7 linked regions of the Homo sapiens genome follow. The protein of the gene in region 2 interacts with the protein of the main gene of each other region in a biochemical or structural test. Each region holds a gene or a part of one and is shown on either strand. Other genes may lie near its edges.

Region 1 (4,427 bases), on a different chromosome or scaffold from region 2:
AGCTGCAGGGATTTCTTGGTCATCTAGTAGACATACTTAGAGCAGTGAAAAATTTGAGTCATCTGAAGACATGCACATTTCCAGGTGAGATCAAACAAACCAACTCATTTTGTTTTAGCTCTCATACTGTAAACAAGTGGCCTTTTTGCATTCTATGTAGTGCCTTACTTTTTACCTTTTGGGTTTTTTTACTGGTGATTTTGCTGTTTAAAACTGACCCCCAAGTGTAGTTTTAAAGTGCTGACTAGTGTTTCTAAGTGCAAGAAGGATGTGATATACCTCATGGAGAAAATATGTGTGTTAGATAAGCTTCCTTGAGGCATGAGTTATAGTGCTGTTGACTATGAGTTAAATGTTAATGAATCAGCACTATATATTAAATAAAGTGTCTTTAAACAGAAACAACAGTATGTATTGATCAGCTAATTAAAATGTTGTGACTTTTGGCCTGGGGGAACCTAACCCTGTATTTTCCCTAGAAGCAATGATTAAATAGTCTCTAATTTAGCATGTACAAAGACTTTCTAGAGCATGACAACATCGAATGGTGAGAATTAACTCAACTGACATATACAGTGATATATTTGGGCTTAAAAATAATTTGGAGGTTAGTATTTAGCTAAGATTGGCCACTAGTTGATAGCTCTTGAAACTGCGTAAGAGGTATGGGGGGACTCTTTTATACTATTCTCTCTACTTTTGTATAAATTTAAAAATGACTATTAAAAATGTCATTTGCATAATTTCCTTTTCTATGAATTGTCTTTGCATGTCCTTCATCCATTATTTTCATTGTTCTTTTTTTTTTTTTTAGACGGGTCTTGTTCTGTCACCCAGTGACAGTCATGTGATCATGGCTCACTGCAGCCTCAACCTCTCAGGCTCAAGCAATTCTCCCACCTCAGTCTCCTGAGTAGCTGGGACAACAGGCATGCACCACCATGACTGCTAATTTTTATATTTTTATATTTTTATTTTTATTCGAGAAATGGGGTCTCAATATGTTGCCGAGGCTTACTTTTCTTATTCATTTATGAAGCTCTTTGTATATTAAATAAGCTTTTTCTAGTATTTAAAAAATTCCATTTGTCATTTGATTTTAGTAGTTTTTAAGCATACCAAAAATAACAAATTTTACCTTGTCAAATTCATCTCTTTAAGCTTAGACATGTATCTAAGCTTAAAAAACCTCCCCTTGAGATTTTAAACAATTTTCACATATTTCCTTCAAATAATTTCATAATTCCACTTTAAAAATTACATTTTGATATATTTGAAATACATGTTGGCATCAAGAGTGAGTAGAGGTAAAGTATTTATAGATGAACGATATGATATAAAGATCTGCTTCAAAAGAACCTGGTAAAGGTGAAACCAAGTTTGTCATCAGTTGACAAGTGCTGAAACTGAGTGATGTGTACATGAAGGTTGATTTTACGGTTTGCTTTAATTTTGTACATTTGAAATTTTCTAATTACAGAGTTAAGAAAAAAATAGTAATTTTTTTTTCCAGGTAAGAAAAAAAAATGCCTCTTTACAATGACGTATTCTAGACTAGTGGTCCCCAACCTTTTTGGCACCAGGGACTGGTTTCTTGGAAGACAATTTTTCCATGGAGTGGGGTTGGGAGGGTGGGAGGTGGGGATGGTTACAGGATGAAACTGTTCCACCACAGATCATCAGGCATTAGATTTTCATAATGAGCATGCAACCTAGACAATTACTGGTCCATGGCCCAGGGGTTGGGGGCTCCTGTTCTAGACAGTTGACCCAACCACCCATTCACTGGATAGTCTATCTCCAATGATCTAAAAGGCCACCTCTACCATAAACAAAATTCTAGTATCTAAGTCTATTTATGAACTGGACTATTCCATTCCACTGCTCTACCTGTATTAATACACAAGTACCAAAATATTTTCTTTAATATTACTTCAATAATATTTTTCATAGCTGAAAGTTTTAATATTCTATCCAGGTCAGGATTTTAACAAAAAGAACCTCAAAGTTCATAGTGGCTCGTATTTTTCCAAATGGCAAAGGCATAATAAGAATAAACTTACATTTATATAGTTCGCATTGATGTAGTCTTCATTACCTTTTAAAATGACCCGTGTGGCATCATCTAAAAAAATTTAAAAGAAATAATGTTTTAGTAAAGTTATGTTTAAAAGATTAAATTTAACAGAGACAATAAGATACTTACAAGGCGAAATATCTCTGTATCTATTTTTGGAAATATTCTGAGGTAATTTGGCACAGGACATTGTCATTCCAGGTTTTTTCCGATACAGTTGCTAAAAAAAAAAAAAAAAGGTACAATTCCAACAAAAGCCATAAACAATTTCTCTTTTGTTTACCAGACTTGTTTCTACACTAACAGGAAACAGGTTTCTTTGCCTTTGAATAGGTCATCTATACAATGATATACCATAGTCTAGTAGAGTACTGAACCAGATTTGCAAAGCTGAATTCTTCAGTTTCTAACATAAATTATGTGTCATATTTTGAAAAGTGGTAAAACTAGTGAAACCAATTCTGCTTACAGCAGGAGCACCTGAAGTTGTGAGTAGCAAATCTGCAGAAAACATTTAACTTTCATTTAGTTTGGAGGTGTTTACAGTCTATGAACTAAGAACTTTTGAACAAAAACAGACATATCCTAAATGTTTTATAGTTAAACACTTACCTATAACATATATGTCAGAACAACAAATATTAATGATGGTCATTTCTAAAAACACATTAAAAACTATCCAGGGAGCCTAGCATGGCTGTGCATGCCTGTAATTCCAGCTACTTGAGAGGCTGAGGCTGGAGGATTGTTTGGACATAGGAATTTGAGATCAGCCTAGGCAACATAGTGAGAGGCCGCTTCTCAAAAAAAAAAAAAAAAAAAAAAATTCAGGTTTATTAATTTAAACAAATTAGGTTGATATAGTCTGAATAAAACATTTCAAAATCCACTGGGTGATCGTGGGTCAAAATGCACATTATAAGCACTGAAGAAGCATTCTAGTTCATTGGATATAATGATCTGTCTGAAAGTTTTGGTTTTTCCAGTTTTCAAGATTGCACCAATGAAAAATAAACAAAGATTAAATGACAAGGTATAAACTTCAAAAATAAAAGTTATTTTCCTTTAGCTCAGGATTTTATTTATTTATTTATTTATTTATTTATTTATTTATTTATTATTTTTTTGAGATGGAGTCTCACTCTGTCGCCCAGGCTGGAGTGCAGTGGCGCGATCTCAGCTCACTGCAAGCTCTGCCTCCCAGGTTCACGCCATTCTCCTGCCTCAGCCTCCTGAGTAGCTGGGACTACAGGCACCTGCCACCACACCCGGCTAATTTTTTGTATTTTTAGTAGAGACGGGGTTTCACCGTGTTGGCCAGGATTGTCTTGATCTCCTGACCTTGTGATCCGCCCGCCTCGGCCTCCCAAAGTGCTGGGATTACAGGCGTGAGCCACCACACCTGGCCAAGCTCAGGATTTTAAAGTATATAATAGCCTATCTTCATCTGCCACCTTTCAAAAAAACAGCTATTTAACTATAGAAAAAAATTTAGTTTGATGACATATGTATAAAATTTCCTTATCCCTCTTTTTAAAACATATTCTATTTATATAACCATAGCTAGTATTTTGGGAGCAATTTTTAAAACTTGGCATTTTAGAACTCTTTATGTCAAACATTTCTCAGAATATCATTTTAGTTTAGAAATTATAATGCACAGATTAGGCACTTAAGAAACTATGAAACTAGTTAGCAAATATCAGCAAAATGCTTTTAATATATAATGATATTACTTACATCAAACTGTGTCAGGACTGTTCCAGTGATAAGCCCCTCAGCTAGCTGGATCATTGACTCCCGCAGGGAATGGTCATCCTGATGCACACTATCTAGTGGGGCTTTCTCAGGAATATACTGGAAATCTGGCTCATTTTCTAGCTTTTCTTCCACTACATCATATACAGCTAAAAAAAAAAAATCAAACAAACCCCAAAACGTGGAAATCTTAATGAATTCACACGATAGGAATTTACCAGATACACTGTATAATGTTTTGTTCAAAAAATAATTCATTTGTGAAGAATTACACCAGATCTGAGTCTGGTGTCACTATGGGGGGACAGAAACTAGTTGTGGAGTTGAGGGGCTTTGCTGTACCTTTGGAGGGAAGAAGTGTTCTTGGCTACATTGCTGAAAATGTCTATAACTTGAAGAGACAGTAAGAAAGAAGAGCTGCTGAGAAGCAGCTGTGAATACACCCGCTCTTAATTTGTAGGGGACCTAGGGCAAGAGTACAAATAGAGACCTATATACCATATGTTTAACTATGAGAAGTTACAAAAAACTTGAACACAGTGCTAAACAAAATATGCTTCATCCTCTTTCTGTGATGTATCTACAAAACAAC
Region 2 (4,427 bases):
AGAACACTGCAAAGCTCTGGATGTGTGGGTGGGTGGGGAGCATTAAGCATATCTCTCAGTATCCTACACGTGCTTGAGGGAAACAAGGGGTAAGAATCCCTGTCCTCAGGGGCCAATATTTCCTTTACAGGCTCTTTAAAGCAAGAGGCTTAAACAATAAATGCCTATAATGCTTTGGAAGATGAAAATCTCTGAAGTGCTACTGACCAGGCTGAAGATTCTGATCTTACTCAATAATGCATTACACTTCCCTTTTAAATTACTGATTCAGCCTTGGTTGGGTTGTATACAGTTTATTAACTCTCTCAAGTTTTGATCACACTTGGTTAATGAAAGCTGGATGAATTGAATATTCTATTTCCTTATAATTGTGGATAATGTCCTCATATATTCTTATTTCCCTTCTGGGTATGGCATACCCAGTTTAGCATAATGCTGTAACTTCTTGTTAAAGAGACAAAGCCATCACTAATTTTTTTTTTTTTTGGCATATAGTTAAAAGTGACTCAGAAATTTAGATTTTTTCCCTTTGGGAATTTAACAGTGGGAAGATAAGGTTGGTTTTGTTCTGGATCTCCTTCTCCAAGGCCAAGTCACAAAAGCTAACTGGACAAATAAAATCTAAGTGTCCAAAAAAGTGCAGTAAGTAAATGTGAGATCAAACTGCATTTGTATATGGGAGCAACTGCAACAATTGTGTCTACATAAAATCTATATACTTACTGCTTCACACAGCAAATATGCCCCTGAATGGTTGTGATTCAAGCATATGTTTAACAATCAGATCAGACAGGAGTTTGACTAGATGAACTTTAAGCTAAAATGAACAAGTGTTTCCTAAATCCAAGGTAGAATAATGAACACGATCTAATAATTAAGCGTGTGGGGCTGTGACTGGGGCAGGGTGAAGCCCGAGACACAATTGTGCATTCCCCAAAGTCTTACTACAGAAGACTATAAGCAAATATTCAGAGAAAATAAATGAAAAATATAGCAAAATATTAACAGTGATTATCTCTGAGTGGTGGGGTACTAGATGATTTTTATTTACTTTTTAGAAGCTTTCTTGATTTTCCACATTCTCTGAAATTAGCATGCATTCCTTTATTTTATTACATTGAATTTTAGTTTAAGTAGAGGAATGCTGAGAGAACTGACTATTAATAGTGAATACCTTGGCAAAGCATCTGGTAAAACAAATAACCACCATCTGCATATTTGTTTTGGTAATTGAGTCTCTCATTTACCAGTTTTGCTTAAAGGTAGTCTCATCCATGTGGTTTTGTTCACTGTAGAATCCTCAGTGGTTAGCACAATGTTAAACACATAGCACATAGGGAGCAGGTATCAGTTTACGTTTTAAAGAAATAAATGAATTTTAAAATTTGGAAAACATTAATTGAGTCTCTCTGCTTATAAATATGATTTGCAAATTTTATGGATTTGTGAAAATCAAGCCCTTTTATCGCCCTGCAGGAACAGACATCAAAGCCAGCACATAATGAAACATAATGGAGGATGGATCACCTCCATTACTGAGTTGGCGAAGGGTCCTTCCCTGTTAGGTAGGGGTGTCTGACTAATTGGTAGTTAATAGCAAGAGTGTCACTGCTTTTGAGTTTATCATCAACTCTTAATTCTCTGTAGTGTTAGATGGGAACAATGACGCAGCGAATTCCCAAATCATTTGTTCGGTTTGGAAAAGAGGTATGATTTTTCCCCAGAAGGTTTGCCTCCTAATTCTTTTTCTTTTGGACAGTGCCTTTCTTGGGAGTGTTGCCTACCTGGATGATGGGGAAGGTAACCAGAAATAGACTGGGGCAGCGGGAAGCCAGCCTGGGATTAAAATGTATCATCCTTTAGCCTTAGTGCTGAATGTAAAGTTCACTGGTGCCATTTGAGAGGGATAGTACCTTTTCTTTGTACAACACTTCAGATCTGTGGAGCCTGTGGGAGAAGTGAGTGCTTTTTTTTTTTTTTTTTTTTTGAGGCTTTTTTTCTGTCTTTGCTTTTTCTTTTAAAAAATCTCAGGAAGAAAGTTCAATGGTGTTGGAGGGATTATAGCCAACTTGCCTTAGATTAGGAGGATTTCTTCCCTTTTCCTCAAATATTTTTTTTCTCCTCTTGGATGTGGAGAGGAATAAAGTCCATTGATTTTAGTAAAGTTGAAGGTATCTCCTCTTACAATGGAAGATTTTTTTCTTTAAAAATCTCCAGGGGAAAAGATTCATTGCTTTTGGTGGAGGTGGGGGAGCATCTCTCTTTAGGTCTGGAGGATTTCCATTAAAAAATAGGTTTTGTGGAGAGGACCTACAAGGGCAACTTGTTTTAATGAAGCTGGGGAGCCCTCCCTAGTAGGATTTTTCTTTCTTTCCTTTTCTTTAAAAGAAACAGTTTATTGGGAAAAATTAGAATGGGAGACATCTCTCCTGGAAAGATTTTCTTTTCCTTTCCTTGCTTTTTTTTTTTTTTTTTTTTTTTTTTTTTTTTTTAATGAAACAGTGAAGGCTGAAAGATACATAAGGTCCCTGGGATAGGGTGAGATTGGGTACATACCCACCACCCCCCCCACACGCACATTCCCCACCTTGAAGAAGCTTGAGAAAGAGATTTTGTGTGTGTGTGGTTTTTTTTTCCTTATTGTGGGGGATGGAGAGGGTAGTCATCAGGAATAATACGCAATGTCTGCAGTAAGGTGTTGGTGCATTTTCCTGGAGAGAATTTCTTTCTTTGATCCTTTAAAAAATAATCCCTTTGTTAATTTTCTTCTTCCTCTTTCCCACCCCTCCTTCTCTGCCACCTTCACTCTATCCTACCTAGTCCTTTTCCCCTTCCCTTCACATTTCTCCCCCCATCCTCCTTCCTCTCTCCCTCTCCTTTCCTCCGTCTCCCCTTTCTTTTTCCCTCTCCTCCCTTCTCTCCCCCTCTTTCTTTTTCCCTCTCCACCTCTCCCTTTGTCTCTCTCTCTGGCTCCCTCCCTTCCTCTGTCTCTCTCCCTCTTTTTTCCTCTCCCTATCTCAGTCTCTCCCTACCTGCTCCTACCTTCCTCTCCTCTCTACCTGTCCGGCTTTCCCCCTCCCTCCCTTCTCCCCTCCTCCCTCTCTTCCTCTCTCTGTTTCTCTCCCTCCTTCTCCCTTCTCTTCCTTCTTTCTCCCTCTCTCCTTCTCCCCTCCTCCCTCCCTTCCTCTCTCTGTTTCTCTCTCTCCTTCTCCCTTCTCTTCCTTCTTTCTCCCTCTCTCCTTCTCTTTGTTTCTTTTTTGTTTTCAGAAAAATATTCAAGGACTTTGGTGAGTTTGGGGGCATCTTCATTCCTTAAGAAAAATATTTCTCTTTAAAATATACTGTTCATGTTCTTCCCTTCCCGCCCCCCATAATTCTAAATGTATTTGCTTGTTTTGAGAAAAAAAGGGGCTTTGTTGAGGCTGAGAATACTTTTGTTTAAGAGGACTTTCTTGGCTTTGTGTTTCTCCCCTACCTATCTTTTCTATTTGTTCTCAAATTACAAAAATTCTATATTAAGAATAAATCTTTTGGTAAATTATATAAATATATTAAATTATCACATGTTCCCTGAAAATATGTACATCTATTATGCATCAGTTAAAAATTAATTAAAAATAAATAAATAAAATAAAAAGAATAAAGTTTTTGAGTGAATTTGAGTCAACTCCCATTAGAAGGATTTTCTTTCATTTTTTCTTCTTTTAAAAAAATCGGTTTTTTTTTTTTTGGTTGTGTTTTGACAGGAAAATTAATGGGTCTTTGTGACATTGAAGTACTTCTTCTCTTTAAGAGGATTCTGTTTTTGTTTCATTAGTAATATCCTCTTCACCAACACATATACCCTTCCATTCTTAATTTTATTTTAAATCTTAAAAAAAATTGTATTTTAAGAATAAGGTTTATGCTCTTTAGTCATGGAGGAGTGGTATTTCTTTTGTCCCTCCCTCCCGCACCCCCCGCGCCCCTGCTTCTTGGAATTAAAAATTCTGGAGATTTGGTATAGTCAGGGACCTATCCTTTAATATTTCTTTCTTTTTTTAATTAAAATGTGTGTATCTAGAGGGGAGGATTCGTAAATTTCATTAACTTTTATGATTTTTGAGAATATCTGCCCTTAAAAAGATTTCCTTTTTTTGTTTGTTTTCCTTAATTTCTTTTTTTTTAATTGAAGGGGTGGCAAATAAAGGTTATTATCCTTGGCGAGGTTGAAGATCCTTTAAGAGGATCTCCCTTTCTTTTAGTTCCTTTTTTCAATTTTGTTTGTTTTTTGTTTTTGGGAGAATAATAGGTCTCTTATCTTGTGGTTAGAGGGATGGTATCTTTCTTTGAACTATTTTTAAAAATTGAGATGTAATTTACATACCATAAAATTCATCATCTTAACATACACAATTTTGTGGGTTTTATTGTATCCACAGTGTTGT
Region 3 (4,427 bases), on a different chromosome or scaffold from region 2:
ACAAATCACAGTACAATCCATACTGATTTTGCAACGGAAGCTCTGGCTATTGCATGATAATGAATCCAGAAAGGAAAGCTTTGGCTTCCTGGAGAGCAGCTTTTAGGAAGATGTCAGAGGACATCTCAAGATGAACCTCAAGGTCCTCCAGGTTTTTCCTCAACTCTGCAGAAACACTACGCACAGTTACCCCTCTGCTAATCATTCAGTATGATTCTGTTCCGGGATGAAAATGAACTCACTATGGCCAAAATCTTGAGACAACAATGGAAATCTAGCATTATTCTTATAATCTAAATATTTACCCATCAAACTCAGTGTTTAAGGCCTTAGAATCCTTCCTTCATGTTATGAAGAGAAAATAAGTTTATAAAATACATAATTTACTAATACATAATTAAATTTATAAAATAAAAAAAATTACAAAGTAAGTAACTAATTGGTAGGATTCAAAGTGGAATCTCAATTGAAAATCAAGTCAAAAGCAATTATTATCATCACCACCACTACCACTATTTTAAATATCTGAATATTGTTTCCTGCAATAAATATTTCTGTCACTCATATCACTGTCATCTATCAGTAGAGGACAAGTGTTTTTACTTTTCCTGAACTATTGCCCAGAGATAGCTCAGTAAGACTATTTTAAAATAACTCCTTTAACATTCCATCTCTATTATCTTGAATGTTCTTAAAATAAGATTTTAAAAATTCTATAATTGTGACACATAAATTGTGGACTTGATGAATACCTATGTAGACTGATGGGAAATGAATGTTTTAAGGCATAAAGCTTTATTCGCTCATGCTTTTATGATATTTACTCATGTCTATTTATTTTACTTCAGCTGCTGATAAATGTTAATATTTATCTGGCCATTTGTCTGTATTGGTCTACAAGGCTGGCATGAATTGAAACTATTCTCTTCTCAGCTTCACAATTGATTGCTAACGTTATTCAAAGTGATTTAATCTACTTCCATCCCAAGGCCTTCCTAAATTAAAACTCTCTGACCTTTTGGTACCCTCAAATTCAGTTTAACAATGTATTTAACATTTTCTACATAATAATGATCTAATTTGCTAACATCATGCTTTTTTAATACGATATTATAATGTTGTATAAATACTGTATTACAGGGAAGCTTTTCCAATTACTTGCGTATAGAGAAAGGTGCATTTTGTTTAACTGTTAGTTTGTTTTCATTTTGTTTAGTTTTGTTTTGCCAAATGCAGTTGAAAGCAAAGGTAGGAGTAAGTATTTTGAGCATTGGTCGGAAATTGCACTACCACATAAATTCTAAGGTAAATTCCTTTGAGTAGAATCCAAGTAGAAGCTCACGCCCTTCAGCTGACGTGCCTGCATGAGTCATAACTGTCTTTTAAGGAAGGAGGAAAGGGGCAAAGATAATTATGCTGCTTCCAAAATTAAAAAAAATACAAATATAAAAAATGAAGGCATTTCCTACAGCTGTTCTGTGAATAATACCTCTAAAAACATTTACAGTTTAAATTAGAGTTTCAGAAAGAAGTTATTTAACTCTTAAACTGACATTGCTTCTTCTCAGAAACCCAAATTTGCACAGACAACTGGGAAGATCAAAATCAAAGAGCTGTGGTGTACAGCTCTAGGCTCCTTAGCTGAGAGATAAAGGAACAGTTTGACTTCAGATATCCTAAAAAGAAAATGCTCCAAGAAACAGATCCAAATAGAAGAAAGGGAGACATCTCAGATTATAAATACTCCATGACTTAATGATTCATTGCAGCACGGAAAGGATTTCTCTTTACGCAAGAGTACTGGGCTGGGTCCACTTATTACGAAACACATGCTCACTGGGGCTTAAAAAACAGCTTCTATTTCATTCCTTTCAAGAAAGCACAGCCTCTAAAAGGACTAGTTGAGTTATCTGTAAGTTAAGATTGATCTGAAGGTGCTGGATATGTTTATGTGACTTCATAATGTCTAGACCAAAACTTAGTCAATAAGACATTGAAATGCTTTGTCACATTCTAGCAAACTCATTATAAGAGATACCCAGATTCCAAGTACTTACAGATAAACGGGATCCATGTAGTTTTTTAAAAATAAAAGCTGAATTTAGGATGGATTCAGGTTTCATAATCTTGTGTAAGAGTTTCTTTGTGCTTTTAAAAAAGTTTATTTGGTATCTCTTTAAGTAATAATATGAACATGTTGCCACCTTCTGTTTTCAAATATGTTGCAACTGACATTTAGAAGAAAATATTTTGACTATATCACATATTAGACATCACAAAAGTGTCAGGAAGTTCTTTGGCAGATGTAACATAGTCTGATTTAAGTGTCTGGAATGATTTTTCTGTGTGCAGACCATCCAGTGGAATAAGTGAGGCTTTGATATCTGAAAATGAAAACAAAAACCTCGAGCATCTCACACATGGGGGTTATGTGGAAAGTACCACCCTGCAGATTCGACCGGCCACAAAGACCCAGTGCACAGAATTCTTCCTCGCCCCTGTCAAGACTGAAGTTCCCCTAGCTGAGAACCAAAGAAGTGGTCCCGACTGTGCAGGCAGCTTGAAAGAAGAAACAGGCCCGAGCTACCAAAGGGCTCCCCAAATGCCTGACTCCCAAAGAGGACGCGTGGCAGAAGAGCTGATCTTAAGGGAGAAGGTAGAAGCGGTACAGCCTGGGCCTGTGGTTGAGCTGCAACTGTCCCTTTCACAGGAGAGACATAAGGGCGCTAGTGGCCCTTTAGTGGCTCTCCCGGGAGCTGAAAAATCTAAGTCTCCTGACCCAGACCCTAACTTGTCACATGACAGGATTGTCCACATAAATTCGATCCCTACTAATGAGAAAGCAGACCCTTTCCTGAGGTCCAGCAAGATAATCCAGATCTCCAGTGGCAGAGAGTTGAGAGTGATCCAGGAAAGTGAAGCAGGAGATGCGGGACTGCCCCGGGTGGAAGTGATCCTCGACTGCTCTGACAGGCAGAAGACAGAAGGGTGCAGGCTTCAGGCAGGAAAGGAGTGTGTGGATTCTCCAGTGGAAGGAGGGCAGTCAGAAGCACCTCCTTCTCTGGTATCCTTTGCCGTCTCATCAGAAGGCACAGAGCAGGGAGAAGATCCACGCTCGGAAAAAGATCACAGCAGACCTCACAAGCACCGAGCGCGGCATGCACGTAAGTTCTGCCTGGGCTTTCAGAAGGGGCTTGGGAGTTGGGGGCATTTTGCTGCTTCTTTGCTTGCATGAGTTTTTCAGCAAGATTTTTCTTATGTTTCTCATTGGCTTAAAGAAATATTTAATTAATGCACAAAATCACAAATGTGAAATTGTGGAGAATACCAATTTCTAAATAGGAAGCAATAAGTCCGAACTTCATATAGATTTAAACATTTTTCATGAATTTCTTTTTATCCCCAAAGGCACAGGAACTGTTAAAGAAAATAATATTGTCAATGTGCCTGTTCATTTTGTTTCAGACAGTTGAAATAGTTCATGTTAAAATAGCATAAGAAAGCACTTGAAGTCATGTGGACTCAGTTTAAATGTCAAAAACTGTTGAGTCTGCTACTGAGAGGTGTCTTTAAAATAAAAGCTCTACCATTGATATCAAAAGCAGATCCTTGTTTTGAAAAAAAATCATTGTGCAGCTTGATGATGCTTGCAGAAGTGAGTTTGACAGACAAGGACATGTGTATACTGAGCAGTTACATGATCCTCTCCGTTGTGTAAGTCTTCATTTGACTGCAAAGTGTTTCATCTACCTTCTAGACACAGAAGTCAGTCTCCAGGGCCATGTGGAGGCATTTAAATGTCTCCAAACATAAAATATATTTAAATTCAGTGCTTTGTATGGCATTTTGTTTTACCCAGGGGAGAGAAGACAGAAAGGAGAATTGGGATAAGAATTGCAGTTAGGTGTTAGGATTTCTATTGTTTTATTTCACGTTTATTTTTGTTTGTTTTTTTTTTTTTTTTTACTAATTTTGGAATTTTATTTGAGGATGTAAAGGCTGACAGGCAAAGGCACTTGACTGTATATATGATACACAATGGCAATGAATTCGGTTATTCAAAGTAGGATATTAAGTCTTCTAACCTATTGTTATTCCTTTCAAAGCATATTTTTAGCATAACCATTTGTAGCTTTATTGGCAAGTGCTGTTAATCATTCCTTATACTTTAAGCATCTGTAGGCCATCTTCACATTTATAGCATATTAAACAAGAGTATTGAGACACCATTCACATACTTTACATGTTGGCAGTGAAGTTAGCAGCAACTGTGCAACTGTGACTGTCAATTTAATAAGTTGTATAACACTAGTCAAAAAAGGAATTCTATTTAGTAATAACCACAGTTTCAACTATTTTTCTCTAGAAAATTCGATCACCAGTAAATGCCTGTAATCATATTATAAAATTATTTCCTTGGATTATAT
Region 4 (4,427 bases), on a different chromosome or scaffold from region 2:
AATTTATAACAGGACACAATAAAGTTGAAGTGCCTATAGGACACTCAGGTAGAGAAATTTAACAGGTGGCTAAGGACATGAATCCAGAATTTAGTAGTAAATTCTAATGCAGTAATATAGATCTAGGGATCATTGACATATACATGGTTGGAGCCATTGACGGAGATACACAAGGAACTGCATATAAAATGGGAGAATATGGAGAATAGGACCCCATGAGAACGCCAACATCTGAGATTCAAGAGAAGATAAAATAGAAGCATTTAGAAACATTGAAGGCAAATCAAAAGGATATGGAATTATAGAAGCAAGGGCAAGAGGGAGCTTCAAAAGATTCTTCACCTCTTATCATAACCACCACTCAATTTGCACTATTTTGTGTTCTTGAGTATTTAGTCTTTTCCCAAAGTGCGTATGTCATATTTTTTTTAATTTGCACAACCTTACTAGCAAAAGTATCTGCTTCTTGTGGCCTGGTACCATGTTTATTTCTCTTCTATTGCATGTGGACCTCCTATAGCCTTTAACTATGCTGCATTTATGGAAGTCAGGGACTAGATAGCCCCTGGACTGATTATCCATCATAGTTGTACCCAATAGTGACTGTTAAAGCTTAGGCTTTTGGAGCTCTAAATACCATAAAATCCCTTTCTAATGCTTGTGTCTGGCATGATACTTAGACCATAATATCTTTTTCAGACTAGCATCAAGTTTTTACTTCAGGTTGCTATATATTAGGTGGCTAGATTTGACCTAGGGTATGCAGACAGCTGTAAATTGAAATATCCATTCTCAATATAAGAAGACTTTACTGTATTTTATTTTTCAAAATTACACTTTTATGAAAACTGTCACAATCATGAATAATATAAAATTAGAATCTCTTTAGGATTTTGGATCTTACTAAAATTTCAATATCTAAAATAAATGAGACTGTTCATTTCAATATCCCTTTATTCCAGATACTAGGATGTAAAATGTCTTCATTTTTTCCCAGAAACAAAGGGGTTAGGAAAGAAGGCTTAAGCTCCAATATATTGCAATACAGAGATAGCCAAGGAAGATAAATCTGCTAAGCTGTGTGAAATATAAAAGGAAAAGCCATTTGGTTACTTTACTTTTGTTTTCATCTCTTTCTACCAATACGCTAAGTAATCTTTCTGACCTGGATAGAACCTCTAAATGTGGATATATACTACCATATAGTTAAAGAAACCCAATACATTGATTTTTACATACCCTAGGTACTTCATATACAATCTGCCTATTTTTTCCAGAATAAAAACCACATAAATTGAAAACAAAACAGCTAGCAGCTAGACATCCTATCAAAGAGTTTCTTTCTTTCCTTCTTTTTTTTTTTTTTTTTTTTTTTTGAGAGGGAGTCTTGCTCTATCACCCAGGCTGGAGTGCAGAGGCACAATCTCAGCTTACTGCAACCTCCGCCTCCCGGGTTCAAGAAATTCTCCTGCCTCAGCCTCCCAAGTAGCTGGGATTACAGGCATGCATCACCACGCCGGCTAATTTTTTTATTTTTAGTAGAGATGGGGTTTCGCCATATTGGCCAGTCTGGTCTCAAACTCCTGACCTCAGGTGATACGCCCTTCTCAGCCTCCCAAAGTGCTGGGATTGCAGGCGTGAGCCACCGCACCCGGCCTCAAAGAGTTTCTTGTTACATTGGTTAAAAGCTGTGTTTAAACAACAAAAACAATAATATGGCACACAATGCTTGTGCACCAATAACTTACAACTTTAAAATATATTCTTGAGATTAAAAATAGTCTTCAAATATTAAGCAATACTGCTTTAAGTACAGAAAGCCATATGTAGGTATGTAAATTGTGAACTAATCAAATGGACGATGTAAAGTCCAGCAAATACAGCAAGAAAACTCCATCAAGATTACTACATTAGTTTCCACTTGTGAGTGTGTATATTATGCATGAGAGTCCATTAAAAGAAGCTAAGTAGTGTAAGACTTTTATATGACAGTACAGATATCTTAATTGGTTTTCAATTTACATACCTTCTCTATGTAAATATACTATCATCTTCCAGATGATAATTAAATTACCTGGCATAATGATGGGTAATACAAACAAATACTAAATAATGTATAAATCATTAGCATGGTATTATTTTCTATATTACACAAAATATCTTTCATTCATTATGCTTTAAAATAGCTAATATTATAATTAAGTGCATTGATTACTTACATATTGCATGAAATTACTTTCTATAACATTACCTTATTTTACTATCTAAACATCAGAGGAATTATCAAAATATTACAAATAACATGCAATTACTTTCTGTAACATTACCTCATTTTGCCATCTAAACTCAGAGGAATATCAAAATATTACATCCCAAAATCTATTTAAATAAATTCTCACACATTAAAGATGTCTTTGGTAAACTGCAGGCTGCTCTTTGCAAGGCTCAAAGGAGAATTCTCATAAAGACAGTCCTGTATGAAGTCGCAATTCATAACTACTATTATTTGAAAAATGTTTTGAAATTTTAAATTCAGCTTTGCCATAAAAAGCATCATTCTGTTGAGATTCCATAAAAGAGAATACCTTATTTCCTTTTTTTTTTCAGACAGAGTCTCACTCTGTTGCCCAGGCTGGACTGCAGTGGCAGGATCTCAGCTCATTGCAGCCTCTGCCTCCTGGTTTCAAGCGATTCTTCTGCTTCAGCCTCCTGGGTACCTGGGATTACAGGTGCACTCCACCATACCAGGTTAATTTTTTGTATTTTTAGTAGAGACGGGGTTTTACCATGTTGGCCAGGCTGGTCTCAAACTCCTGAGCTCAAGTGATCCACCCGCTTTGGCCTCCCAAAGTGTTGGGATTACGGGAGTGAGCCACCACGCCTGGCTGATAATACCTCATTCTCAGAAAAAGTGTTCTCCATTTACCAAACAATGATCAAGATTTTATATCTACCACTTGCTTGCATTACTTATTGTTGAGATATATTTTAACACTGTTAATTGCTTGATTTTCTGAAGTTATAAATGAAGAATTTGGGGAAGAGAAAGCAAGATTTAAAAAGAGGAAGACAATATAATTTGTCATCCGGGTTGAAACTCAAAATTGAGAGAAGGGGTTACCATACATAATAATAGCAGGAAATTGGTATAAACAGATAAAGGAAAATCAACATGTACAGTCACCTTCCTTTTAAACAGCTCTATTTTGCCTTTAAGTAAGCATTCGTATGAACAGGAAGTTTTCACAATATTGCAACAGAAGCAGAAACATCTAAAATCAATTCTGCAGAATAACCCCCTCTTGCTGTCCACAGAAAAGTAATCTAGTCAAAATAAGTGTATATAAACTCGATGTAAGAATGTGAGAATATAAATACAGAAAACCTAAGGCATCCAATAAAGAATCTTAAAAAGTTCTTAAACACATGCAATTTATTACATCACTCAATGGTAAACTGACATGAAAGAAAACTACCTGACAAATATACATGACCCCTTATTCAGCTAATTCTGAAAATGAAGAATTTATTAAACCCAGTGACACTAAAATTATTACTGTATTTCTCCAAATTTTTTTCTGTAAAAGATGAGGAAATTACCCCAAGCTAATTTCTCTTCTCATTTTTGAATTAGGATTGCCTTTTAGATCTTTCAAACTTTATCACTTTGCCCACATTGCTTTTTGTGCTAAAAACATGTACGAGCTATTTAATGAGAGGGGAAAAAAAAAAAGAAAAGAAAGAAGGTAAATATAGTCTCAGACCAAGCCCTGAACTCATTTTACCTTTTAACTCCTTGTCAAATTCTCACACTGGGAGCTGCAACCCTGGCAACACTGCATTGCTAGCATGAAAGGATAGGTGGGCTCTTCTCCAAGAGCTCATCTTCCCAAGCCCCCTAGTACCTTCAAAGACTACTGGAAAATATAATCTTGGTGTTCTACAGTTTTAACAAATAAGCATAATAATGGCACCTTTCTTGGAAACAGCAATTTGGAGGATATGATGACTCCACTATCATTTTAAAGCTTCACAGATTAGAAGGACTGCCATTATAAATTCCACTTTACATATAAAATCTGATGCTTGGATGGATTATCTTGACAATGTTCACACCTATAAAAAGTCATAATGTTAAGACCAGAATCTAGTCCAGTGTTCTATCCAACTATCCAGCACTCACCTCTTTTTCTGACTACGGCAGTTTTAAAATGATAGGAACTCAGCCAACATTGGGCTGTAAGCAGAGGATTCGCCTTTATTCTACCCCAGCAGCCTAATGCCTGACCTAATTCTAATACCTGAAACAATGGTCTTGTTGAATTAAATATCATATGACACTTTGTTAGAAATAGCCTATTTAATAAATAAAATTCAGAACAATAGTGGCAAACAAAGATAACTCATGGTTAGGTGGAATGGTGGGA
Region 5 (4,427 bases), on a different chromosome or scaffold from region 2:
ATCTCTCTTCTTAGAGTTTTTTCAGGATTGATTCTTTGTTATCTCTCTCTTCAACAATATGTGTGCTGGTGGCAGGGCGGGGATCTGATTCTTACGCTATGATATTATAACATGTACCTTTTTCTCTTTATATGGGGTATGGTGTTCATATTTTTGATGACCTGTCCTTTAAAATCGCTCTTTAAAATTATAAACTGAATTGAAAACATTTCACTGAATTATGCTTTCATGCTGACTTGGAAAAAGAAGCCTGAAACTTGGAAATGGTGATGGATATTTTGGAGACATTAAAAGTCTATAAAACAGATTTGTCAGTTTCCTACTTACAAATCTGTAATCCACAGAATCTAATTCTTATCTATGTTAATGAGCAATCCACTAAAATTGAATGGTAACCCCTATAAATAATATTTAGGAAAAATTTATCAATATTCACTTTACCTCCAGAGGAAATGTTGCTGTGAACACATTTTGCACCTTGTTAGAATTTCTCTGGGTTTTTAATGAGTGAGTCTGCTGTGGGCCAATATTTATCTACATCTCCAGGTTCAGCATACTGTGATTTTAAGTGGCCACATCATTAACCTTTGAAAAATGGAGGAAGTCATGGAAAAAAACTAACAAAGAAAAACAGTGCCATAGCAACTGCTGTTAGCAACATCAAATCTCCTACTGATAAATTATCAGAAAAACTTGTGGGGCTTTGGTTGTAGAATGAAAAAGTATGATTTTCATGTCTGTATTTCTTTGCTGATATGTTCTCAAAATTGTTGTTAAAAACTGATGTTTGCCTTTGCTTAGTGGGGATAGTTTAACACTTTCCTCTCTGTCTCTACCTGCCCCCTTCCAGGTGGTGCATATGAAGTCAAACAGCATCGATTCTTCCGTTCTTTAGACTGGAACAGTTTGCTGAGACAGAAGGCAGAATTTATTCCCCAACTGGAATCTGAGGATGACACAAGTTATTTTGATAGTATGTGCTTTATCTGACATAAAACATTGTTTGGCCTTTACTCGATAAATAATTATCTTTGCTTTTGAACCTTTTCATATCTCTGAGTTCTTAAACATAATGTTGATCCAGAAAATCATAATTAAAATATCTAAATGTTGAAAATCTGAGTAATTGGACCTGTTCCCAAACATTTCACTGCAGCTCGGTCTGAGAAGTATCATCATATGGAAACGGAGGAAGAAGATGACACAAATGATGAAGACTTTAATGTGGAAATAAGGCAGTTTTCTTCATGTTCACACAGGTTTTCAAAAGTAAGTGAAATGTGGCATAAACATACAGAGTCTCTCTGGGAGGATCTCCCGCTGGCCAGATAGTATCCCCGAACAGCTGGACACTTACCGTTTTCCAGGGTTTGAGGTCTCCTATGCTTAAACTTCCTTTTGTTGAAGAAAAGTGACCTCCTCAACTTATAGTCTGTCCCTATCCCCTAGGCCTTTAGACTGCCATTTTACCTTCTCTCTTTCCTGTGAGACAACAGAGATTCAGATAGCTGAGACCTTGGGCTTACCTGAGCTCTGATCCCCTTCAGGAACCCCGGCACCAATATATTTCTCTCTCCACAAATTAAGATATTGTTTTCTTAGAGGCATAGCCTTGCACCCACAGTCTTGTTTTTGGAGTGTGTGACTGCTACTTATATGATGACCTTGCCTTGAACGTCTCTCACCTGGCTCAATGCCAGGCTGCAGAGGTATCACTCATTGCTTTCAACTCAGGATGAAGAGCGCGAGCTTCACTGTGTACAGAGTCATCTCCGAGGGATTACACAGAGTACAACAAAAGGAGAAGGCTCAGTCCTTGACATAAGCAAAGATACCTGCGGACAGTTGACTGTAGGATTGTAAAGTCTCATAACTGCCAGGCATAGTGGCTCACGCCTCTAATCTCAGCACTTAGAGAGGCAGAGGCAAGAAGATAGCGTAAGCCCAGCAGTTCAAGACCAGCCCGGGCAATATAGTGAGACCCCGTTCTCCACAAAAAGGAAAAAAAAAGCCAAAAAAAAAAAAAAGTCTTGTAACCAATAAACAGAAATTATAAGCCATATTGAAAAGGCAGTAGGAAGCCAAGCTAGAATCATTTAGATAATTGATGCTTGAGAAAGATGCCTTTTTACCAGTACAGTAAAAGTTAAAAAAAACAATTAATCAAAACAAAGAAAACTGATAGTACTGAGACAGAACAAGGCCCTAGGAAAAACGGAAATCAACCTGAGGGCACCCTACCTCCCTTTTGCTATTTTCAGTAGCTATATATTTTCTGTTGCCATGGCATTTTGCATGATTATTGTTTAGCTTTTCTATAACATTTAGTGATTTTAAAGTGCTCCGTAGCTTTTTCTAAATGATTACCTAGATGCACCTGCAAATTGGCCAGCACTACCCTCCTGTGTATGGGAATGGCATCGAGGTAAGGATTTCCCTGGAGAAGGTGGTAGCCAGTCTGTCCTAGAGCCAGGACAGAAGCTTTGCTAAGTGTGGACTCAGACCAGGACTGTTCTCTGGGCCATCAAAGACAACAATGCCAACCCCTAAACACTGCTTCCTTCTTTGCCTTGGTGGGTATTTCATTTTCCCACCATCTCCTTTTCTGTAGCCACTTTCCTGCTATTCCTAGTAGATTATAGGAGGCCTGAGGACCATTCCCATGAGAGCAGCAAGTGTCTGAGCAGGGCAGTAGGGAGCGCTTCCTGCCCTAGGCTCTTAGACCCCCATTTTACCTTCTCTCTTATGAGACAACAGAGATTCACAGATAGCTGAGACCTTGGGCTTACCTGAGCTCCGATCCCCTTCAGGAACCCCGGCACCAACATAGGAAACTGCCTGTCTATAGATGTGATTTGTAAGCGAAACAAATACCTCTGGCTCTTATAACGGAATATGTACTGCATCCTTGCCACACCACCACCCAGTCTTGAAACAGATAATTTATTCTTCTGTTTGCACTCAATTCCAATTCATTTTTCTTCTTCCCACCCCTGACTGGTGGCCATTAAATCTGTTTCTCTGTTATTTTCTTTTTCCAGTTGACTTCATGGTTAAAAAGTAATCAAGATGTGCATTGATCCCAAGGCCTAGAAACTCCACTGCATCTGTGGATTTTGTTTGCAGATACAAAGTCCGCAACAAGATATGATGAGAGGATGATGAATTCATAGCTCCCTATTCGTATATATGTACACACACACACACACACACACACACACACTCACTCACCCTGACCCTTCCTCTCTGGATTCTGGTTAACAACACTGGAAAGTACTTTCTGAATACACAATATTAGTTCAGAATTTAGTTATCCTCTCAGGTTTTTCTCCCAAGACTTGGAGTGTTTTTCTGACAAACTCTTTTTAGTAGATATTAATAAGCACCAATTATTTGCCTTCCAGGTTTTCAGCAGTATAGATCGAATCACTCAGAATTCAGCAGAAGAGAAGGAAGACTCTGTGGACAAAACCAAAAGCACCACCTTGCCATCCACAGAAACACTGAGCTGGAGTTCAGAATATTCTGAAATGTATGTGAAATGCCTCTTAAGTAATATAAGCAGTAGCTACTAGAGCAGAGTTTCTTAAACTTTAGTGAGCATCAGAATACCTGGGGGGCTTGTTAAAACACAGATCTCCCACTTCCAGAGTTTCTCATCCAGTAGATCTAGGGTAGGGCCTGAAAATGTGCATTTCTGACAAGTATCTAGATTATGCAGATGTTGCTGCTGTGGGTACCACACATTAAGAACCATTGCACTAGACATCTCTTGGTTAGGCTTATCCAAGTCCGATTTTCACCTGGTTTCTTCCAAAATTCACCTTTAACACAGTTTTCTAGTATGTATATATGACTTTGTTTTTGCTTTTAATTAAGGCAACAGCTATCAACATCCAACTCTTCAGATACTGAAAGCAACAGACATAAACTCAGTTCTGGCCTACTTCCCAAACTGGCTATTTCAACAGAGGGAGAGCAAGATGAAGCTGCCTCCTGCCCTGGAGACCCCCATGAGGAGCCAGGAAAGCCAGCCCTTCCTCCTGAAGAGTGTGCCCAGGAGGAGCCTGAGGTCACCACCCCAGCCAGCACCATCAGCAGCTCCACCCTGTCAGGTAAGCCCCGGGCCATAGTGCCTGCTGTCCTCCTCACCACACTAAGTGTCTCCTAGTGCTCAGTCCCAGGGCGGGCCTCGCCAGGCAGTAAAGATGGGTGTTTTATGCTGCTAGACTTTCTCCATGGCCTCAGTCCTTAGGCTTGGGACACGATCTTCTGAGAGCTAAGATCAGATGTCTCAGACCCCTCCTCAGTGCTCGGCCATGCAGCAAACTGTTATTGCTTCCGTTTGACCTTGGGGCCAAACTTCACTTTCTCAGCCAGGTTGCAGGGGATCTTTTGAGGGAAGTCAGAACGTGCTAAGGGAGCGT
Region 6 (3,101 bases), on a different chromosome or scaffold from region 2:
GGGGGCTTTGTGCGGGCTCTTGCGTGGGTTTCGCAGTACAGCTCCCCTTCTATGAAGAAGTAGCCCTTTTGCTTGAGGTTGAGGTTGCAGTCGGCACACACGAAGCACTCAGGGTGCCGGTACTTATCCCGCGCCTTCACCACAGCACCGCTGTTGGGGAAGAAAACGAGCTCAAGTTAAAAAACCACAGAGCAAAAATATGAGACAAAGGAGAGAACCCAACAGAGAAGGCAGATGTTCTCTATTTCACAGTCAGGAAACAATGGCCTCCAGCTGTGAAAGCAGGCACAGCCGTGAAACTGTATGTAATTGTCATGGAGATCTAGGATATCCACAATAAACCATCCCGTGTTTCTCTCTGATGTTGACGTGTGACTATTTTTCAGATTTTCAAACAAGTACTTTATAGAAAATTTGTAGGATCCTACTTCATGATCTTTCCCCATCGTTTCTTTGAAGAGGGAGACATGATGGAGACAAGACCAACCCCTCTGCAAAAGATTCTGCTTTTGACGGGGGTGGTTGTCTACCCAATGAAGAGTCTCTCTGATTGCTTTCCGTCTGCGTGGTCCAGCCTCTATTCAATGGAGCAAGAGAAAACAGATCAAAGACGACCGGGCGTGGTGGCTCACGCCTGAAATCCCAGCACTTTGAGAGGCCAAGGCGGGCAGATCACAAGGTCAGGAGATCGAGACCATCCTGGCTAACACGGTGAAACCCCATCTCTACTAAAAAAATACAAAAAAATTAGCCGGGCGTGGGCACCTGTAGTCCCAGCTACTCGGGAGGCTGAGGCAGGAGAATGGTGTGAACCCGGGAGGCGGAGGTTGCAGTGAGCCGAGATCGCGCCACTGCACTCCAGCCTGGGCGACAGAGCGAGACTGTCTCAAAAACAACAACAACAATAACAACAAAAACAAAACAAAACAAAAAACCAGATCAAACAGCAGAGATGGAATTCCTTTGGGGTGGGTGGATTGGCTTCTACTGTGAACAGTTTATTCCAACTTAGGCACAATGATTGCTTCTGGTAACGTCAGGCACTGTTGTATTTTACTGAGGGCCTCTCTGCTCCGAGCTCCCTGCCCTGCTTTGACCTTTTGGTCTCACGTTCCTCCTTTTGCCCTAACCAGGCTTATCCCCCACTGCCTTCTTGGGATGTATCCTGGCTAACCGGACAGAGGACACATCAGTGTGTGAGTTCATGGCAGGAGGAATGGAATAAGGGAATGGGGACGTGGCCACATGGCACGAATGCCATGGAGATGTTAGAATTATCTTGGTTGACTTGATCCTGCACTAGCAAGTGTGGCTATTTAAACATAAGGTCCCTGCCGGGCACGGTGGCTCACACTTGTAATCCCAGCACTTTGGGAGGCCGAGGCGGGTGGATCACCTGAGGTCAGGAGTTTGAGACCTGCCTGGCCAACACGGTGAAACCCCCTCTCTACCAAAAATACAAAAATTAGCCAGGTGTGGTGGTGGGTCCCTGTAATCTCAGCTACTGGGGAGGCTGAGGCAGGAGAATCGCTTGAACCTGGGAGGTGGAGCTTGCAGTGAGCCAAGATTGCGCCACTGCACTCCAGTCTGGGTGACAGAGCAGGGCTCTATCTCTGAATAAATAAAAGTTCCCTTGTAATGGAAGCTGACAGTTTTTCAATATTTTGTTTCAACATTTGTGTAACTTACACTGGGTAAGGATAATGTATTTTAAGTAACATCCTGTTGCCTGTATTTGTTTCCCTGTGTTTATACAGAGGAGGATACTATGTATACTAAATGTATACACAGTTCATGTATGCATTTACTAAACACTATACGTTAACAGGGGTGGGGGAGTTTAAAGTGAAGTCTTGATTCTTAGACGTGACTTTTCAACATACATTTGGGCATCTTTTTTTTTTCATGAGAATCTATCTGAAATTGTAAGTCAAAATTGCTGACTCATGTGATGTGACAATTTGGAGGTATATCTAAGGAGTGACAGTCACAATGTGCTAAATGTTGGGGACCTTACGTTTCAAGTTGATGAATAGAAATTTGGTTTTCACAGTTGCCTTTAGTCTATAAAGTCTTAAAGGAGAAGAAATGAACTGTCGCCAAGCTGTATCGTAAATTCCAGGGTTAAAAGTGAAACTTACACTATGCCACTCCCACATTTGTCACAGAGCGGCATCCTCTGTGCCCCGCCTGAACCGCCATGGACTTTCGTCACCGGAGCTCTCACACTCCGCGTTCCAGCCGGACGGTCATCTGAAAAACAAAGCGTTTCCATTTATGGCTAGGGAACAGCTGGCCGCAGCCTGTGCTTGGCTTCTATTTTAAAGTGTGCACTTTAACCTGAAGTTGCATCTGCACCGTCATTCCGAGAGGGGCAGGACTGATGCAATCATAAGGGACGCTGTTCTGAAATAGGGCATTATAGAATGGAATTAGTGAAAACATTTATTTTGTTGTGGTTGGAGGAAACTGTTACAAAAACGCTCAAAGGAGCAGAGGGCATTATTATTTTTTATTGTAGCAAAATATACATAAAATTTACCATTTTCACCATGGTTAGGGGTGCAATTCAATGACATTAGGTACATCCAAAATGTTGTGCAAGCACTGCCAATATCCACCTCCAGAACTATTTCTTCACCTCACAGAACCTCTGTACCCATGAAACAGTAACTCCCCACCCATGAAACAGTAACTCCCCGTGCTCCTGCTCATAGCCCCTGGTAACTTTCATTCTACTTTCTGTCTCTTGGATTTGCCTATTCTGGATCTCTCAAATAAATGGAATCATACAATATTTGCCTCTTTGTGTCTGGCTTCTTTCACTTCACATAATGTTTGCAAAGTTCATTCATGGTGCGCCGTGTGTCAGAATTTAATTTCTTTGAAGACTGAATACTATTTCATTGTATGTGTATACTACATTTTGCTTATCCATTCATCAGTCAATGGACATTGGGTGTTTTCCCTCTTTGGGCTATTGTGAATAAGATAAATGCTGGCATACAGGCTGGGCGTGGTGGCTCACGCCTGTAATCCCAGCACTCTGGGAGGCCGAGGCGGGTGGACCACGAGGTCAGGAGTTCGAGACCAGCCTGGCC
Region 7 (5,155 bases), on a different chromosome or scaffold from region 2:
TGAAAGAAAGGAGATTGCCTTCTCTTTTCCCTCTTCCCTGCTTCTTACTGACTGGAAAGCAGATGTGGTGGCAAGTCACTTGGACCATGAAGATGAGATATCACTCCAGGATGGAAGTAAGAAAATAGAAGGAACTTGGGTCCCTGACATCATAGAGCCATCTTTTGGTTTGGCTTATGCTCAGACTGTTATGTCAGAGAAATAAATTCCTATATTATTGTTATTTTGGATCTTTTTACAGCAGCCAGACCTGTCTCCTACTACACATGTCTGCTAGAATAATGAAAAGCAATAATCATAATCTTTGCTCCTTCTGTGTACTAGACACTAACCTAAATGCATGGTTGCATTTAAACACAACCCATTAAAGTAGATAGTAGGATAGCCCCATTCTGCAGGTAAAATGGAGGCTTAGAGAAGCTGGCTCATTAGTGGGAGGATTAGACCTTTCTGTCAGCAAACTGTCAGATACTGTAGTGTATAGATACAGAATATTTTATCATTAAGGGACAGGCAAATTGTGTACAACTAGACTTTTTAAATGCCGAGACAATATTTATGTTCATTGCAGAATTATCTGTTATTCAGCAACCATGCCCTCTTTCTTCCTGCAAAAAGAACCTCAAATCATTCAAACAGTGGGCAATGATTCCTTGACTTCAGGAAGAGTAGGTCCTTATTGTAGAAACCTGTGAAAGAAATCCTAATCAGTCTGTATTAATCACTGGCATTTCTTACCAGTGATTGGCCTAAAGACAGGCACAGGGTACAGTTCTGGTTAATGAGATGAAAGCAAAGGTCTAATGAGAAACAAAAAGCCAAAAACCTGTCTGGAATGAAGATGCAATCAATGCTGGAGTTGTGGGATCCATCATGCAACCATGAAGACAAAGCCAACATCATAAGAATGGCAGAGTGGAGAGATAAGTGGGGTCCTTGATCACATTATTGAGCTGCTGCTCCCCTTGCCTGGAAAATCTACCTCCAAACTTCTTGTAATATGAGAAAAACAAACCCCAATTTACTGAGAGCCACTATAAACTCGGTTTTGAATTTTTTTCACAGGGGGAAGCCTTCCTAACTGACACACACATATGCACATCCTTTTGTTTTACTTAAGAAAGTTAAGGAAAAGTCATACAACTTATAATGGTGTCCCGTGCACTCGTGGCTTATCACTGTGAAACCCAGTTCTCCCTGGCTCATCCACAGTAAGAATTACTTCAGTAATTTGAAAAATAACCTTTTGGAATTATTTCTGGGGATATGAAAAGTAACCTGAACCAATAACAGAGCTCAAATGCAATCCATATTACCTTCTTCCCACCCTCAAATTAAAAATTTTTTCTCCCTTAATTACAAATGTTTCTTGATGAATGCACATGTGTGAAAAGCCATTATAATCTATTGTATCAGACTATTAAATACTCTAAAAATTTAAAAGCAATATTATAACAAGTAATGTTAATCTGTAGTTTAAGAGAAAAATAGAAATATTAACCCCAGTACATAAATATTTCATTGGTATGACTACCCACACCAAAAGATAAATGAAGAATTGAGGTATGCTGCAGGATGACTAAGGTTTAAAAAGGGATTCAAATATACAGATAAATAGGAGAGGCAGAAATGTTTTGATCTTGAGTTATGCTGAAAGCTGATTTAATTCTCCTTTCTGAGTGTGGGGAAAAAAAGCAACACATGGTATTTATGCAATCTATTATCCAGAATTATAAGCAAACTTAAAATATTTTTAGATGCTATTTTCAGTTGAAGAGAGAAAAAGCAGATATTTTTGAATGCACAAATATATACCATGCCACCATCTTAACCATGTTATTAATCTTTAATCTGATTTATAACTGAAAAGCTCATGTGGTAACTGATTGTATGCGATTTCATTCACAAAAAGAGAAGATTATCCATCAAACAGGCATATTTTTCTTCGGATTTCATAGAATAAATGAGCTAGACACATTTTTCTTTCAAATCCCAGGCTATCCAAAATATTTCTAGATAATCAGAAAGGCATGAAACAGCAAATTAAGTTATATTAAGGCAGTTCTCATTATTTTGCATTTTTGACAAATCTGACAAGTTGAAAAAAACAATTTGAATAAAGGCAATATTGGAAAAAGAAACATACCTTAGAGATGATTAATGGTTCTCCGTGCTCCAGGCCACCCTTTAGAGTAAAACCCCAGGGAGCTCCTCCCTCCAGGAATGCCTCCAGATAAATGTACCTTCCCTTGGTGGCCGTGTTAGAGTTTAATGTGGCACTAGGCTTGTGGAAGTCTTCAGTGGTCCTCATCATGCCAAACACATGATCCCTCAAGTTAAATTTAAAATGCCTGAAGCAAACTCAGGCAAGCAGTGCTTCTACAGCACAAGTTGTCCCATCCTTCAGGACACACAATGGCCAAAAGAGAGGTTTGGAGAAGCAAATTCTTCCATACGTAAAATGTTCTTCCAAGCTGAACTCCAAGATGCTGAACCAGAAGGAATTTTCACTTCAACATTTCTGAATGTAAATCCTCCTCCAGGAATTCTGGGTTCTCACTGAAGCCCCCAAGTGGTATACATCTCTACTCCGTTCGTCAAAACTTCCTTCAGTGGCGCTCTGAAGATTGCTTTTCTGAGCTTTTATTTCACACATACACACACTAAAACCATTTCTGCCTATTTTACAGAGAAAATTAAAAGCATCTTACAATATAGTAAGAAAATCACAAATACTCAAAGGAATACCTCATTTTTGATTGATTATCAACCCTTTCTTCCTCTCGGAGTGAAATTTACCATTACAATAGCCTCCTCCCTCCCCAGAAGTAGCTTAAAAAGAAAGAAAGCACTTACTATGCTTCGGCTCACTTCAGAATTTTCTAACTTGTCCCGAAGAGACAGAGAAGCTGTGCTAAAACTTTTTACTTCTTTTTTTCAACAATCAGTTCATAGTTTGTTTCTTAGGAGAGAAAAAAACTTTTGCAGGATGTAGAGAAAATGAAAAAGCACGGTAAATTAATCCTCAATGGAAAAAATATGAAGGAGGCAGCTCAGTTCTTTTCTTTGGTATTTTCAGTGATGATCAGCCACTGCTGCGGCCGCCACAGCCACTTGCCTCCTCTTGAGAGAAAGAGTAAGGAAGTTAGAGGAACATGGATTAAGGCAAAGTGAGGCATTGCAACCTTTCTGCACAGTAAGCACTGCCATGCAGAATTCAGCTCACCACAAAGACCTGACAATTCAAACAGTCTTACAGTTAATAACACGTAGGAAGTTAAAAATACTATACAGATGGCTAATTGCCAAGGGATAGAAAATAGTTCCTAGAATAGCCCCGCCTCGTACCAATTAAAGGAGAATTTCAGGGAGTGAGACATAGGCATTTGTGTTTTTAAAAACCCTCCAGGCAATTCTGCTATGCAGCCAAGTTTGAGAAGCAATGCCTAAGTGATTTGGGTAAACGTTTAAGTACATGTCAAGGTGGTGGCACAAGGGCTTTTTTTTTTTCGTTAGAAGAAAATACTACCAGTGTAATATATGAAATGGGACTTTCCAATCAAAGTTCTGCTTGTTTGACTCAATAAAAACAGGAGGTGGGTTTTTTTTTCTAGGTTTTCATTGTTATCTACTCCAAGATTGTTATCCACTCTTTAAATGAAAAGAAATCTACAATGCCTTGTGGGTAAGTACTAGGTACTCGGGAAAGAATGTTGTTCTGATTTCATGTTACCAGTGTCATTTTGTAATAATGTTATATACAAATTTAACATTCATGCTTTGTATTAAAAATTTGAACAGTAGAAGATAACCATATCTAACCCAGAAGCCTCAGCTATTTAGTTATTGGAACAGATTAGAATTACTTCCAGGTAATATATGTACTAAAACTTTTTTCTGTTTAAAAGTATGGGATAATGAGAATTAAGTTGAAAACTGAAGTTAAAAACTACTGTGGGGCTTGATAACAATTATTTTGGTGTTTGTACTTATAATTAATGAAAGGCTGATATGGAAAGGCAGGTATATGATATCAAACTACACGATATTTAATTTACAACACTGGACAGGTATTGTTTGATTTTCAATGGTAACTTCACTTGAAGGGCTCAAAGACAAAAAAAAAAAAAAAAAAGTAAAACCTTATGTAATGGTAGTATGTGAATGGAAACATAAGGAAACCTAAGGTGTACCAAATGAAAGTATGTGGTAAAAATTGGCTGATTCTTAAGGGTAATTTACGCAATTTCTATTGTGGTTTTCTTTTACAGCTTAATTTGTAAGTTAGAATAAATGGAGAAACATTAGCTTTTCTTTCATTTCAAAGAACATATGTATTTTAAATAAAAGTCCTAGGTAAATGAACAGCTTTCTTTCTGAAAAAATTAATTTATGAGGCTCTTATTATGTTACTCCTAATACATTTTGTAAAAACTGGGATTTTACAGAATCCACATTTAATATTAAAAGTAACATAGCTATACAAAATTTCAGTTAGGAGGCATAAGCTCAAGAGATCTATTGTACAGCATGATGACCATAGTTATAACAATGTATTGTATATTTGGAAATTGCTAAGATTAGATTTTAAGTGCTCTCACCACAAAAAAAATTAGTATGTGAGGTAATAGGTTAATTCCTTGATTTAGCCATTTTACAATGCATACTTATATCAAAACATCATGTGGTACACCATAAGTATATATAATTTTTAGTTGTCAATTTAAAAAATAATAAACAAAAAAAGTAATGAAGCTAAAGGCAAAGGAAATAAGGAAAAGATAATATGAACCCAGTGCTTGCAGACTGATGAAATCTCCATTTTAGATTATCACCAAAAATATTGAAGAAACAAACATAGAACCAAAATTGATATGTAATCTGAAAAAAAAATGTAAAACTTCATTTTGTGGACCTTCACTATAGCAGTTGATAGACCAGGTTTGGAAGAACTTTTTTCCTCCATCTTCTGTTGATCAGATTCAAAGAATGTTAAAGCTGCAAGAGACAATCCTCCCACACCCTTGATTTTAGAGGTAAGGACACAGAGGCCACCAGAAGGTTAAATGATCTGACCAGAGTAATCCTGCAAGCAACACAGGCAGGCATGAAATTTAAATCTTCAGACGTTTAGGAATGAAATCCTAGCTTAAGT

The links.
Region 1: the proteins of DGKK (region 2) and PTPN4 interact in a test that uses a peptide from one of them, tested with the Homo sapiens proteins (one large-scale study listed by IntAct).
Region 3: the proteins of DGKK (region 2) and SYNPO2 interact in a test that uses a peptide from one of them, tested with the Homo sapiens proteins (one large-scale study listed by IntAct).
Region 4: the proteins of DGKK (region 2) and RIMS1 interact in a test that uses a peptide from one of them, tested with the Homo sapiens proteins (one large-scale study listed by IntAct).
Region 5: the proteins of DGKK (region 2) and MAST4 interact in a test that uses a peptide from one of them, tested with the Homo sapiens proteins (one large-scale study listed by IntAct).
Region 6: the proteins of DGKK (region 2) and PDLIM3 interact in a test that uses a peptide from one of them, tested with the Homo sapiens proteins (one large-scale study listed by IntAct).
Region 7: the proteins of DGKK (region 2) and SHROOM3 interact in a test that uses a peptide from one of them, tested with the Homo sapiens proteins (one large-scale study listed by IntAct).

What each region holds. Positions count from the first base shown.
Region 1 is NC_000002.12:119,954,714-119,959,140, reverse strand, and holds part of PTPN4 (tyrosine-protein phosphatase non-receptor type 4), read right to left. Parts: intron 3,985-4,427; coding exon 3,818-3,984; intron 2,298-3,817; coding exon 2,207-2,297; intron 2,126-2,206; coding exon 2,064-2,125; intron 1-2,063. UniProt on the Homo sapiens protein: Phosphatase that plays a role in immunity, learning, synaptic plasticity or cell homeostasis. Regulates neuronal cell homeostasis by protecting neurons against apoptosis.
Region 2 is NC_000023.11:50,460,425-50,464,851, forward strand, and holds part of DGKK (diacylglycerol kinase kappa), read right to left. Parts: intron 1-4,427. UniProt on the Homo sapiens protein: Diacylglycerol kinase that converts diacylglycerol/DAG into phosphatidic acid/phosphatidate/PA and regulates the respective levels of these two bioactive lipids.
Region 3 is NC_000004.12:119,024,275-119,028,701, forward strand, and holds part of SYNPO2 (synaptopodin-2), read left to right. Parts: intron 1-2,352; coding exon 2,353-3,164; intron 3,165-4,427. UniProt on the Homo sapiens protein: Has an actin-binding and actin-bundling activity. Can induce the formation of F-actin networks in an isoform-specific manner.
Region 4 is NC_000006.12:71,892,623-71,897,049, reverse strand, and holds part of RIMS1 (regulating synaptic membrane exocytosis protein 1), read right to left. Parts: intron 1-4,427. UniProt on the Homo sapiens protein: Rab effector involved in exocytosis. May act as scaffold protein that regulates neurotransmitter release at the active zone.
Region 5 is NC_000005.10:67,141,265-67,145,691, forward strand, and holds part of MAST4 (microtubule-associated serine/threonine-protein kinase 4), read left to right. Parts: intron 1-850; coding exon 851-973; intron 974-1,156; coding exon 1,157-1,269; intron 1,270-3,404; coding exon 3,405-3,532; intron 3,533-3,879; coding exon 3,880-4,115; intron 4,116-4,427.
Region 6 is NC_000004.12:185,502,334-185,505,434, forward strand, and holds part of PDLIM3 (PDZ and LIM domain protein 3), read right to left. Parts: intron 2,254-3,101; coding exon 2,142-2,253; intron 151-2,141; coding exon 1-150. UniProt on the Homo sapiens protein: May play a role in the organization of actin filament arrays within muscle cells.
Region 7 is NC_000004.12:76,433,212-76,438,366, reverse strand, and holds the start of SHROOM3 (protein Shroom3), read right to left. Parts: upstream 3,139-5,155; 5' UTR 2,315-3,138; coding exon 2,147-2,314; intron 1-2,146. UniProt on the Homo sapiens protein: Controls cell shape changes in the neuroepithelium during neural tube closure. Induces apical constriction in epithelial cells by promoting the apical accumulation of F-actin and myosin II, and probably by bundling stress fibers.